4 separate regions of the Homo sapiens genome follow, and regions 1, 3 and 4 are each linked to region 2. The links come from fine-mapping of genetic effects on gene expression. A gene starts in region 2. Each other region holds a variant in brackets. All regions are shown on one strand. Distances are between the middles of the regions. Region 1 overlaps ERMP1 (endoplasmic reticulum metallopeptidase 1). Region 2 holds the start of ERMP1 (endoplasmic reticulum metallopeptidase 1). Region 3 has its middle 14 kb from the start of MLANA. Region 4 has its middle 28 kb from the start of ERMP1.

Region 1 (2,687 bases), 29 kb after region 2:
TATTGTTAAAATGCCCTTTCTTGTGCTACATTTGAATTTACTACTTCATGATGGGGGAGGTAGCTTTGTTAGTGTTTACTTTAAATCAGTTTAAAGAGCAGACTGTGTTTAAAACAAAATGTAGCTTTCCTGAGTGATGGAAAGTGTGTTACTATAATAAAAGCTCTTTATGCATGACCCCTGAATGAGACTACTTGTATATTTTTCTTTCTTTCAGAATGCCAGTGCCCAGTATCTGGGAGAAGTATTTTTTGACATTTCGCTGTTTGTCCATTGCTGTTTTCTTGTTACCCTCACTTACCAAGGACTTTGCTCGGCGTTTATTAGTGCTGTCTGGGTAGCATTCCCATTGCTCACAAAGCTCTGTGTGCATAAGGACTTCAAGCAGCATGGTAGGGTATTTTTGATTTTGATATACATGGGAGAATACCTTAAAATACTTAAGGCTTTCAGGGACTCTTTCTTTTTTGGTTTTATTGGGTAGGCTTTCTAAATTGTTAGTTTTTAAAAGTTTTCATACCACACAAATTATCTTATGCCTTATACTCCATCCCTTTCTCATGTTTGTGAACACATACTAATATATTACTTGTGTATTTTGCTTTATTCTTATTTGTATTTTATCCTGAGTGAAAGATCCTACTCCAAGATAACATACACCCTTAAGGGCAAGAGTCACATCTAACCTAATTTCTGTTAGGGTACCAAGGCACACCAGTACTATAAAAATTTATATCTCACTGGAGGATTTCATAGATGTGTGCTTTTTTTCTCTTTTTCCCTAGGTGCCCAAGGAAAATTTATTGCTTTTTACCTTTTGGGGATGTTTATTCCTTATCTTTATGCATTGTACCTCATCTGGGCAGTATTTGAGATGTTTACCCCTATCCTCGGGAGAAGTGGTTCTGAAATCCCACCTGATGTTGTGCTGGCATCCATTTTGGCTGGCTGTACAATGATTCTCTCGTCCTATTTTGTAAGAGAAAATAAGTTTTTTTCTTTTTCTTCATTTTTTATATGAATATGAATTTAGCCATACTAGATTCTGTGAAATAGTGTTACGTGTACTTTATTGAGAAAATCTGAAGCAGAAGAAATGGTGAATGAATGGCCATGCATCTTGTAAATTTGGTATCGTAAGAAACTGTAGTATAGAGTTTGTTGTTGCTGTTTAAAAGTTTTTTGCCTCCCTATCCTTCCAAATTCTCTGATTTACCTCTTTTCAAATAGCCTGTCAGATACCTGAGTGTGAATTTGTAGAGCGTTTACCAAGTATTAATTGTTAGAGATTGCCTGGTGGTGAATGATCCTAATAGTAT[A/G]TTTTGAAATTACTAATTAGAGGCACATGTTAATAGATACATGGGTGGTTTTATTAGTGCTTTTAGAGCTAGTGAAGGAAGACTAAATCTGATGAGGCTTTTTTCATTATCATTCCACTACCTTGTTGCTACCACATGAAAGCTTGTTAATTGAGTCTGTTATGACACCCAAACGTGCCTTCATTTACCAAATAATGAAATGATCACAGGCCTTGTCAGTCCTCATTTTGCCGTATCAGTGTCCTGCCCTAGTAAGGAGAGTCCTGTGTTTGCCATCCCTTTTTTTCTTCCCTTGGGATTCCCAGAGGGAAGAAAAGACAGTGATGCAGAGTTTAAGACCAGACCCCCCTTGAGCAGAGTAAGCCCCAAGCAAGGTTTTGCTTTGGTTTGATGTCCACCTCCACGATCCAAGATGGGCCCCTCCAGAGAATGCAGGTCTCTTTTGGTGGGAATTCCTAAGAATAAAAAGTAATTATTGAACACTCAGAGGTGCACCTTGAAATTTGAGGATAGGGAACCAAACAGGAAAAGGAGCTATGATTTTATTATAGTTCTTTTCTTCATGGAGATGATAGTGAGCCTTTTCATACTGATATAGTAAAGGGCATTCGTTACCCCTTTACTTTGTGGAAGTTAGGTTCTAAAGACAGCAGGTAAGGAAAACACTACACACATGGTCAGCATCATCCGTGGAAGTCCCTTATAGCCAGTAAAGCTCTATATATGTGACTTTGTGTATATAGTCCTGTAGAGTAATTCTTATGCATATTATTGTTTGAGGTTGGTTGTACTAGTCTTAAAAGAGATCTGAGCCTTCCAACCATTTTACTTATAGGATAATTATTAAGGATAATATAAGGATAAGGATAATCCTTATTGGTATTCATAGGGCTGTATGAAAAGTTCTAAAATGTTCTTTGCTGCCTGTAGGGTTTGCTGCTTTTGAGTTTAATAGTAACCCTTATATCATCTGTATTTTTGATAGGTTTGCTGTTGTAAGGATTGAAGGAGACAGTGGACTTTTGTTATCTATAGATTAGGTTCTAATCTAATCTGAAGTCAACTAGTTATGAACTGAATGCCCCCACACCCCCGTTTATTTGTTAAATTATAGTCATGAATGGGAGCTATGGATGTCCATAAAAGATGACTCAGATAGGGGACATTTAAATTCTGTTCCACTGATAATATGAAAGGGGGCAAAATGAACCCTGGAGATGTTCATTGTGGAAATGGAAAATGTCCCCAAAGCATGGAAATCTTGGAAACCAGAAGAAAGAGGATTAAAGTGTCTTATCATCTAAATTATATTTTATTGGGAAAGCTTTTGGAGAGAAGACTGCCTCTTGGAATACTTTAGAAAGCTCA
Region 2 (2,687 bases):
GGTATGTTTTCATTTTTTCATTCACTCAAGAAATATCTATTGACTACATACTATGTGTCATGCTTTGTGTTAAGAGCAAGGAATAAAATGGTGAGTAAAACCAGACCTGATTCCTGCCTTCGTGGGGCTTACAGTCTAATGAGGAAGTTATGAAATAGTCACATGCAAACATGGTGCTGTGAGATCCTACAAATAGGGGAAGCAAGCTTAATTAAATTAGGAGATTCTTGCTTGAGGAAGTACCACTTAATCTGAGATTTAAAGGATAACTAGGAGTTAAAAAGACAATGAGGAGAGAGAAGAACACTCCAGGTAATTCAAACAGCATGTGAGAAGATCCTATTGTAGAAGGAAAGATGCGTGCAGGAAGTCTTTGAAAGAGGCCAGTGTGGCTGGAGAGCTGGAAATAAGAAGCATCCTGGTGTCAGAGGAGCCTGAGAGGTGGGCAAGAGCAGGACTATAGGGCATTGTATGAAATCTGACATATGTGCTAAGTCAAAATCCGGCAGTGTGCTCTCCCAGTTGGTCTCTAGGTTAATGCTCATGCTAATGTAGCAACTCCAAGCTAGGGACAAAAAACCTTGGAGCAGAGAGGCTCATGGGTACCGGCAAGCTGGAAGAAGACTAGATAATCACTAGGATCTGCACTGAAACCAAGGCTCTGCTGCTTAACCGCCCCAGAGAGTCGTCAAGTGAAGAATGGCCTTTCTGAACCTTCACTTGCAGAGTGCTAATGTAGTAGTGGAACAGAATGCTGTTTTGGGAGCCCATGAAATTAGATTTACATTCTTCATCTGTTATCTCTACGTTTCTCAGGTTATAAAATGGGAACAAAGATATTTCCTTTTAAGTATTGTTAAAGATAATTAAATAAGATGATGTATTAAAGGACTTGACCTAGCGCTTAGCTCATAGCAGGTATTCAATAAATAATAGCCATTATTTTTCTTTATCTGTTAAATGGAGACAGTAATAGCACAGATTAAGTTGCTGAGTTATGAAGATCTGATTAGATTATGCATGTGAAAGCAATAGGCCGGGCCTCCTCTGCGTAATCTTATTTCTAATTTTAAGAGCCAGGAACCCACTTTTTTGGAGCCTGATGTTCTAATATTCCTTCCTTACGAAAGCCAGGTCATTGCTTTTTTCATCTGCCTGATGCACTGTAAGAGCCTTGTGTGTTCTTTCAAAAGCGATCTCTCATTTTTCTCGTTTTGGGTTTTTAGGTGTCTTTACATTTGGCAATCTCCGTCCTACAGAGGGCTGGAAAAGCCCTGCGGGAGACGGCATATCCACCACCCGCTGCTGGGTCGGCCCTGCAGCTGTGTGCACCCGAGAACTGCCAAAGAAGCTGGGTCTTGGCGCGGCGGGACGGGCCAATCAGAAGAAGTTTGGCCCTCTGCAGTTTCCGTCCGCTCACTAGGAGGCGCTGCGGCAGCGACGGCGGCGTCGGCGGCGGCCGGGGCTGTCGCGGGTTGGGGCGGTTGGGCTGGCAGCTGAGGCTCGTGGCCATGGAGTGGGGTTCTGAGTCGGCTGCTGTGAGGCGGCACCGCGTCGGAGTAGAGCGTCGAGAGGGAGCGGCGGCCGCGCCACCGCCGGAGAGGGAGGCCCGAGCGCAGGAGCCTCTGGTGGATGGGTGCAGCGGCGGCGGGAGGACGCGGAAGAGGAGCCCCGGGGGTAGCGGCGGCGCGAGCAGGGGCGCGGGGACCGGGCTGTCTGAGGTGCGCGCCGCGCTGGGGCTCGCGCTCTACCTGATCGCGCTGCGGACGCTGGTGCAGCTCTCGCTGCAGCAGCTCGTGCTACGCGGGGCCGCTGGACACCGCGGGGAGTTCGACGCGCTCCAAGCCAGGTACCGGCCGCTCCCTCCTGGCACGGCCCGCGCGTCCGTTTGCGGCTCCTGCGCAGGCTCCGGGGCACCGCACCTGTGTGCACCCGCCCCTGCCGGACCGCTGGGACTCGCTGACCCCTCCCAGGCTGCACGTGGGGTGGGGTGACCTTGCTTGTCCTTCTTCTGGGGTCTGAATTGCCGGGACTTGGGGCTTGCCTGTCCCCGGTTAAGCTCGTGGTGCAGATTGGGGTTGCCAGGTAGATTGAACCTGCTTTCCACTGTCTGCCCTTCGTGCAGATGGTTGGTTGTGAGTCGTCTCCCCATATTCTGGAACAGCTTCCCCTTTTTACCTTGCTTAGCCCTTCTGCTTTCCAGATGGAAATTTGTGTACCTAGACTGTTGTATAAATTCGCTTTGGGGGCGGGGAGTTTTGGAAGGCGCTAGTGCACTGTTCTAACTTTCTGAGGGTTACAGCCCCCACATCTGAAGGCTATAGAAACTCTTTCTGGAACACCGCCCAGTCAAAATTTGGTATGCAGTCTGATAAATTCTCAGATCCCTGCAGTTTATCTTTAGGCCCCTTGGATTAGTGACTGTGTAAGGTTTGACTTTTTTTTTTTTTTTTAAGACCTTTAAGAATGCTAGGAAAGGTGATTAAGTCAAAGATATTGTAACCCAGGTGTGTCAAAGCTCATGAAGTGTTAAGCTGGCGTCAAGTTTTCAACAGCTACTGTGTTCTAAAAAGTTTTTGCTAGAATGCAAAGTGTTGCAAGCTTATTAAGGACTTTCTGAAACGTCTCCCACCCCCACTTCCAGCTTTCCCCACTTGGAATGCAGTGAAAAGACAAAAACAGTTTTG
Region 3 (2,687 bases), 44 kb before region 2:
CTCATTCACCTTTCCATTATCAGTAGGGACTCAATAGATATTTCTTGAATGAATAAAAGTAAATAAATAAATGAAGACACTGATTTTTAACTGGTCCTGGTGATAAATAATTTCTAACAGAGGCATTGCCCAGATCCTTTCAACTAGTCCATAACATTTCTTGAGCTCCTATGATATGCCAAGGACTGGATTCAGTAGTCACCAAAGCTTGTTGAGTTGCTGTTTCCCTTTCTGAACCTCTAATAGTCTACATCACATGAACACATGTTTTCGAAGGCAGACCTTCTTCAGACAATACATGGACAGCCTTAGGCATAAATCCCTTTCCTGTATGAATTCCTCTATAGTAAAAATCATATTGATTGCTTAGGGAGGGGGATACTGAGTTAGTGGTTAAGGGTGTGAAGGATAACTCCTCAAATTAAAGAACTGCACGAACCCTTAACACTCAAAGGCTGGGAAGCATAGAAGGTATTTAATAAGTGCTTGTTGAATGAATGATGCAGACATGCATGAGGCAAGAATGAGGCAAGCTCTGGGCGCCAAAGACAGAGAGGGAGCAGCCACCTTTTTCTTAGTAGCTTGTTGAGGAAACTGCTTGCTGGCCCCTGCCCAAGCCCATGGTGTGGCCATTGTGCATTCTGCAGGGCACATAGTCTGATATGTGGGGTGCTCACAGTAGAAGCCACCTCACACCAAGAGACTCTGCGTGGGCCTTTCCCCTGAGAGATAACTTGAATGCGATGGTAAAATAGAAGCCAGGGGTTTAAGACCAATCTCTGCAGTTTATTAGCCCCTGGATAAGTTACCTAACCATTCTGAGCCTCAGTTTGCTCAACTGAGAAATGAAGATCGTAATTTTTAATTTAGAATTCTTCTTATTTTTTTAGGTCCTTCCAGATTGCAAAGAAGAGAGGCACACAAATGGTTGCTCAGATGAGGTAGATAAGTTAATTATTAGGAAGAACAGGACAATTTCATAACTGCTTCCTGGAGACCTGGGACAAGCCCCCTCTTCATTAAGGAGATGACTGTGGCTGGAATGGCTTTGCAGGATGCCCCCTGCTTGCTCCTTCTGATGCGTCTTGTTACCTCTTTATCACTCGCACACAGTCAAAGGAGCTGGCTAGGCCAATCGTCACTATCCGGGAAAGAGTGCCCCCACTGGGCAATGTTTCTGCACCAGGTCACCTCATGTCCATAGCTCTCTTTGACTCAGGAAGGGATCCCAGGTCCCGCCAGTTGCAGTCACAGCACTCACAGAACAGCTGAGTCACCTGGAGAGAACAGCCTAAGGCTAGTTTGGCTTTGAGAGTGTATTAGTTTCCTCTGGCTGCCGTAACAAAGTAACACAAATTGGGTGGCTTAAAACAACACACATTTACTGTGTCAC[A/G]GTTCTGGAGGCTAGAAGGCCACAGCGTGGTGTCAGCAGGGCCATGCTGTCTCTGAAATCTATAGGGGAGAATCCTTCCTTCTCTCCTGGCCTCTGCTGGTGCCTGGCAGTGCTGAGCATTCTATGGCTTGTGGGTGCATCACTCGAATTTGCACCTCCATTGTCACATGGCTGTCTTCTCCCTGTCTCTGTCCTCATGTGGCATTCTTCACTCTCTGTGTTTCTGTATCTTGTTATAACGACACCAGTCATATCAGATTACCTTACCCCAATAGGACCCCATCTTAATTACACCTACAACTACCCTAGTTCCAAATAAAGTCACATTCTGAGGTCCAGGGGGTTAGGACATCAACATATTTTGGTGGACACAATTCAACCCATAACAGAGGTTCACAAACTGTCCAGCACCTCTCCAGCAGAGCTGTGGTGAGTGTTACATGAGAGGCTACACATGCCTACCATGGTGTCACATAAAATAAAATTGTCTTCCTGTTCAATGGGTCTCAAAATGTAGTCCTCGACAGGCAGCAGCAACAGCCCCTAGGGACTGGTTAGAAAAACACACCCTCAGGCCCCACCCCAGACTTACTAAATCAGAAACTCAACCTTCAGTATTTTCACAAGCTCTGCAGGTAATTCCAACACAAGCTAAAGATTGAAAACCATGCAGTCTCTGACCTGGACAGAAGTACAAGCTGATAGAGAAAAGTCCCTGAAAAGTGAATCCCAACTGGGGAGCCCACCCACAGCTTCCCAGCAAAGCCATGAGAAAGATCCCACACCCAGGGCTTCTGCTCCCCCTGCCCCATGGCCCCTCTGAGCAGCCACTGCTTGCTGCCACAGACTCGCTGCTCCCTTGCTCATGGCCTCTCTTGCTGTTTCCTTTACTCCAGTTGAGAGTAAGCCTCCCTCCCTGAGATCTGTTTTTTAATTTAAAATTTTTTAGAGATAAGGTCTCACTCTGTCACCCAGGCTGGAGTGCAGTGGTGTGATCATAGCTCACTGCAACCTCAAACTTGTGGCCTCAAGCAATCCTCCGGCCTCAGCCTGCTGAGTCTCTGTGACTACAGGTATGCACCACCATGCTAGGCCTATTGGTTTTCAAAGATTTTGCAGAGAGGGGATCTCGCTATATTGTCCAGGCTGGTCTCAAACTCCTTTGCCTCAACCAACCCTCTTGTCTTGGTCTCTCAAAGTGTTGGAATCACAGGCATGAGCCACATGCCCAGCCCTTTCCTGAGATCCATACTTGGCTTGTGGCTAGATGAGACGCCATTTCATGGGCCTTTTC
Region 4 (2,687 bases), 28 kb before region 2:
ACCAGCCTTGGCAACACAGAGACTCCATCTCTACAAAAAATAAAAAGTACAAAAAATTAAAAAATTAGCTGGGCATGGTGGCACACACTTGTAGTCCTAGCTACTTGGGAGGCTGAGGTGAGAGGATCTCTTGAATCCAGGAGTTCGAGGCTGCAATAAGCTATGATTGCACCACTGCACTCCAGTGTGGATGACAGAGTGAGACTCTGTCTCTAAAATAAATAAATAAGTAGGTCAGGCATGGTGGCTCATGTCTGTAATCCCAGCACTTTGAGAGGCTGAGGCAGGAGGATCACCTGAGGCCAGGAGTTCAAGACCAGCCTGGACAACATAGGGGGATCCCATCTCTACAAAAATAATTTAAAAATTAACCAGGCATGGTGGCACACACCTGTGGTCCCAGCTACTTGGGAGGCTGAGGTGGGAGGATCACTTGGGCCCAGGAGGTAGAGGCCGCAGTGAGCCATGATTGTGTCACTGCGCTCCAGCTGGGGTGACAGAAGGAGACCCTGTCTCAATAAATAAATACATACATACATACATACTTTTTTTAAAAAAAAAATTAAAATGTGATTTTTTAAAAAACTTTAACTTTTAAAGGACTAGTGGTTGGATTGTGTCTAGAGGGACAGCCCCTGATTATCTGACCACTTTTGGTAACAGGAGGGACTACACTCAACTGGCCCCATGAAAAGAGAAGGGCCAGGAGCCATCTCCCCAGGGTGGCCTGGAGAAACAGAATGAGCAGTCCCCCTCCCCTGATGTTGCTGTTGCACCTGCTGAGATCCTTTGACCTTGGACTATTCTTTTTCTGGGCAGACCAAAAAAAAAAAAAAAAAAAAAAAACCCTTCCTCTCTTCTCTGGGGTCAACACTAGAGCTCTGCCTGCACTGGGAAGAGAGTGGAGCCCTAGGGCCCCTTACTGGCTTAGTACTTTCCATCTCCGTCTCTTGCCAGGTTTCCAGAGGCCCTGTCTTGTGCATCTAAGTCTACAGTTAACTGTCCACTTCTTAGTGAGAAAGGAATCTGCTTTTAGTGCCATCTGTAAAAGAAGACAAATAGGTCTTTAATCAAGATTGACACACATGGCTCCTGCTTTCTCCTTGTTAAAGGTGGTACTGAATACCTCAATAAAATAGTAAAAAAAAACCCAGCAAGTATGATTTTGAAAACTCAACCCTGTACCTTGAGTAGAAAGAGTGTAGAATATATTTCCTTAAATCTTACTTTTTTT[T/C]CACCCAAATTCAGCACAGCTAAGGCCAATGATGACATCCTGGGATAATACTTTGAGTTATTAACTGATTTTTTTTCCCTCTCCAGTACTTTACTTTTTCTTAGCTTTTACACACACACACACACACACACACACACACACACACACACACACACACACCCCCTAAGCCATTGTGGGTTCACTGCCTCTCAGAAATGCAGAAACATTTTGACAGAGAGCATAGCTTCTTACTAGATCCCTGTCTCAGTCCATTTTGTGTGGCTATAACAGAATACCACAGACTGGGAAATTACAATGAACAGAAATGTATGGGCTCATAGTACTGGAGGCTGGAACTCCAATATCAAGGTGCTGGCATCTGGTGAGGGCCTTCTTGCTACATTATCACATGACAGAAGGAGAGAGAGTGAGAGAGGGTGGAGGTGGGACAGTGAAATGACCCTTTTATAGGGAACCAGCCACCATAGTAATCCATTATCATGATTACTGGGAGACTGAGGCAGGAAGATCACTTGAGACCAGGAGTTTGAGACCAGCCTGGGCAACACAGGGAGACTGTCTCTACAGTTTTTTTTTAATGAGGCCAGATATGGTTGCTTATGCCTGTAATCCCAGCACTTTGGGATGCTGAGGCAGGAGGATTGCTTGAGGCCAGGAGTTCGAGGCCAGCCTGGGCAACAGAGTGAGACCCCCCGATCTCTACAAAAAAAAAAAAAATTGTGGACTGAAGTTGATAAAATTGTCCTTGCAACTTTCATGGCCACTAGAGAGAGAACATGTAGTATGTCACTTGCCATTGGTTACGTTATGAGCAATTGAGCCCATACGTTATGGCTCTGAGCTTCATTCATTTACTCACTTATCCATCCATATTTATATTAATGTACAGCTGGCCAGACACTGGAGACATAAAGATGAATGGAACAGAGCTCCTGCCCTCACTGTGCTTGCTGGCAGTAAACTTCATCCCTAAAATACTGACAGTGCATTTATCCCAGTTATAAATATAAATGCTTCCTTCCTTCTTTTTTTTTTTTTTGGAAACAGGGTCTGGCTGCAGACAGTGGCACAATTACAGCTTACTGCAACCTCTATTTCCTGGGCTCAAGCAATCCTCCTGACTCAGCCTCCCAAGTAGCTGGGACTACAGGTATGCACTACCACACCTGGCTAATTAAAACTTTTTTTTTTTTTTGGTAGAGACAAGGTCTCACTATACTGCCCCGGCTGGTCTCAAACTGGGCTCAAGCAATCCTCCAGTCTTAGCCTCTCAAAGTGCTGAAATTATAGACATAAGCCACTGTGCCTGACCAATGCTTTCTTAATAAACTTAAGTTGAGCTTATTTAGCATGTAAGAATTCTTTATTAAGATATTAAAAATTCTGGTACTAAGACCTGTGTAATACAGGGGTGTGGTTTTTTCAAAGTATATCTAAGGCTGTGTTTAAATTT

What was found.
Region 1: its variant is fine-mapped to the expression of ERMP1 in blood mononuclear cells (TOPMed, PIP 0.91).
Region 3: its variant is fine-mapped to the expression of ERMP1 in whole blood (INTERVAL, PIP 0.97).
Region 4: its variant is fine-mapped to the expression of ERMP1 in thyroid (GTEx, PIP above 0.99).

What each region holds. Positions count from the first base shown.
Region 1 is chr9:5,803,316-5,806,002 of GRCh38, reverse strand. It overlaps ERMP1 (endoplasmic reticulum metallopeptidase 1), which reads left to right. Exons shown (of 15, transcript NM_024896.3): 9 at 218-392; 10 at 786-976. Among named protein-coding and RNA genes, the nearest start is that of ERMP1, 28 kb to the left of the region's middle. The variant A/G (reference allele first, on the strand shown) is at 1,320.
Region 2 is chr9:5,831,852-5,834,538 of GRCh38, reverse strand. ERMP1 (endoplasmic reticulum metallopeptidase 1) reads left to right here and starts at 1,422. Exons shown (of 15, transcript NM_024896.3): 1 at 1,422-1,849. The coding sequence starts at 1,512. RefSeq lists silencers at 1,336-1,555, 1,636-1,855.
Region 3 is chr9:5,875,497-5,878,183 of GRCh38, reverse strand. No RefSeq gene overlaps it. Among named protein-coding and RNA genes, the nearest start is that of MLANA, 14 kb to the left of the region's middle. The variant A/G (reference allele first, on the strand shown) is at 1,394.
Region 4 is chr9:5,859,877-5,862,563 of GRCh38, reverse strand. It overlaps a transcript of ERMP1 not described here. Among named protein-coding and RNA genes, the nearest start is that of ERMP1, 28 kb to the right of the region's middle. The variant T/C (reference allele first, on the strand shown) is at 1,235.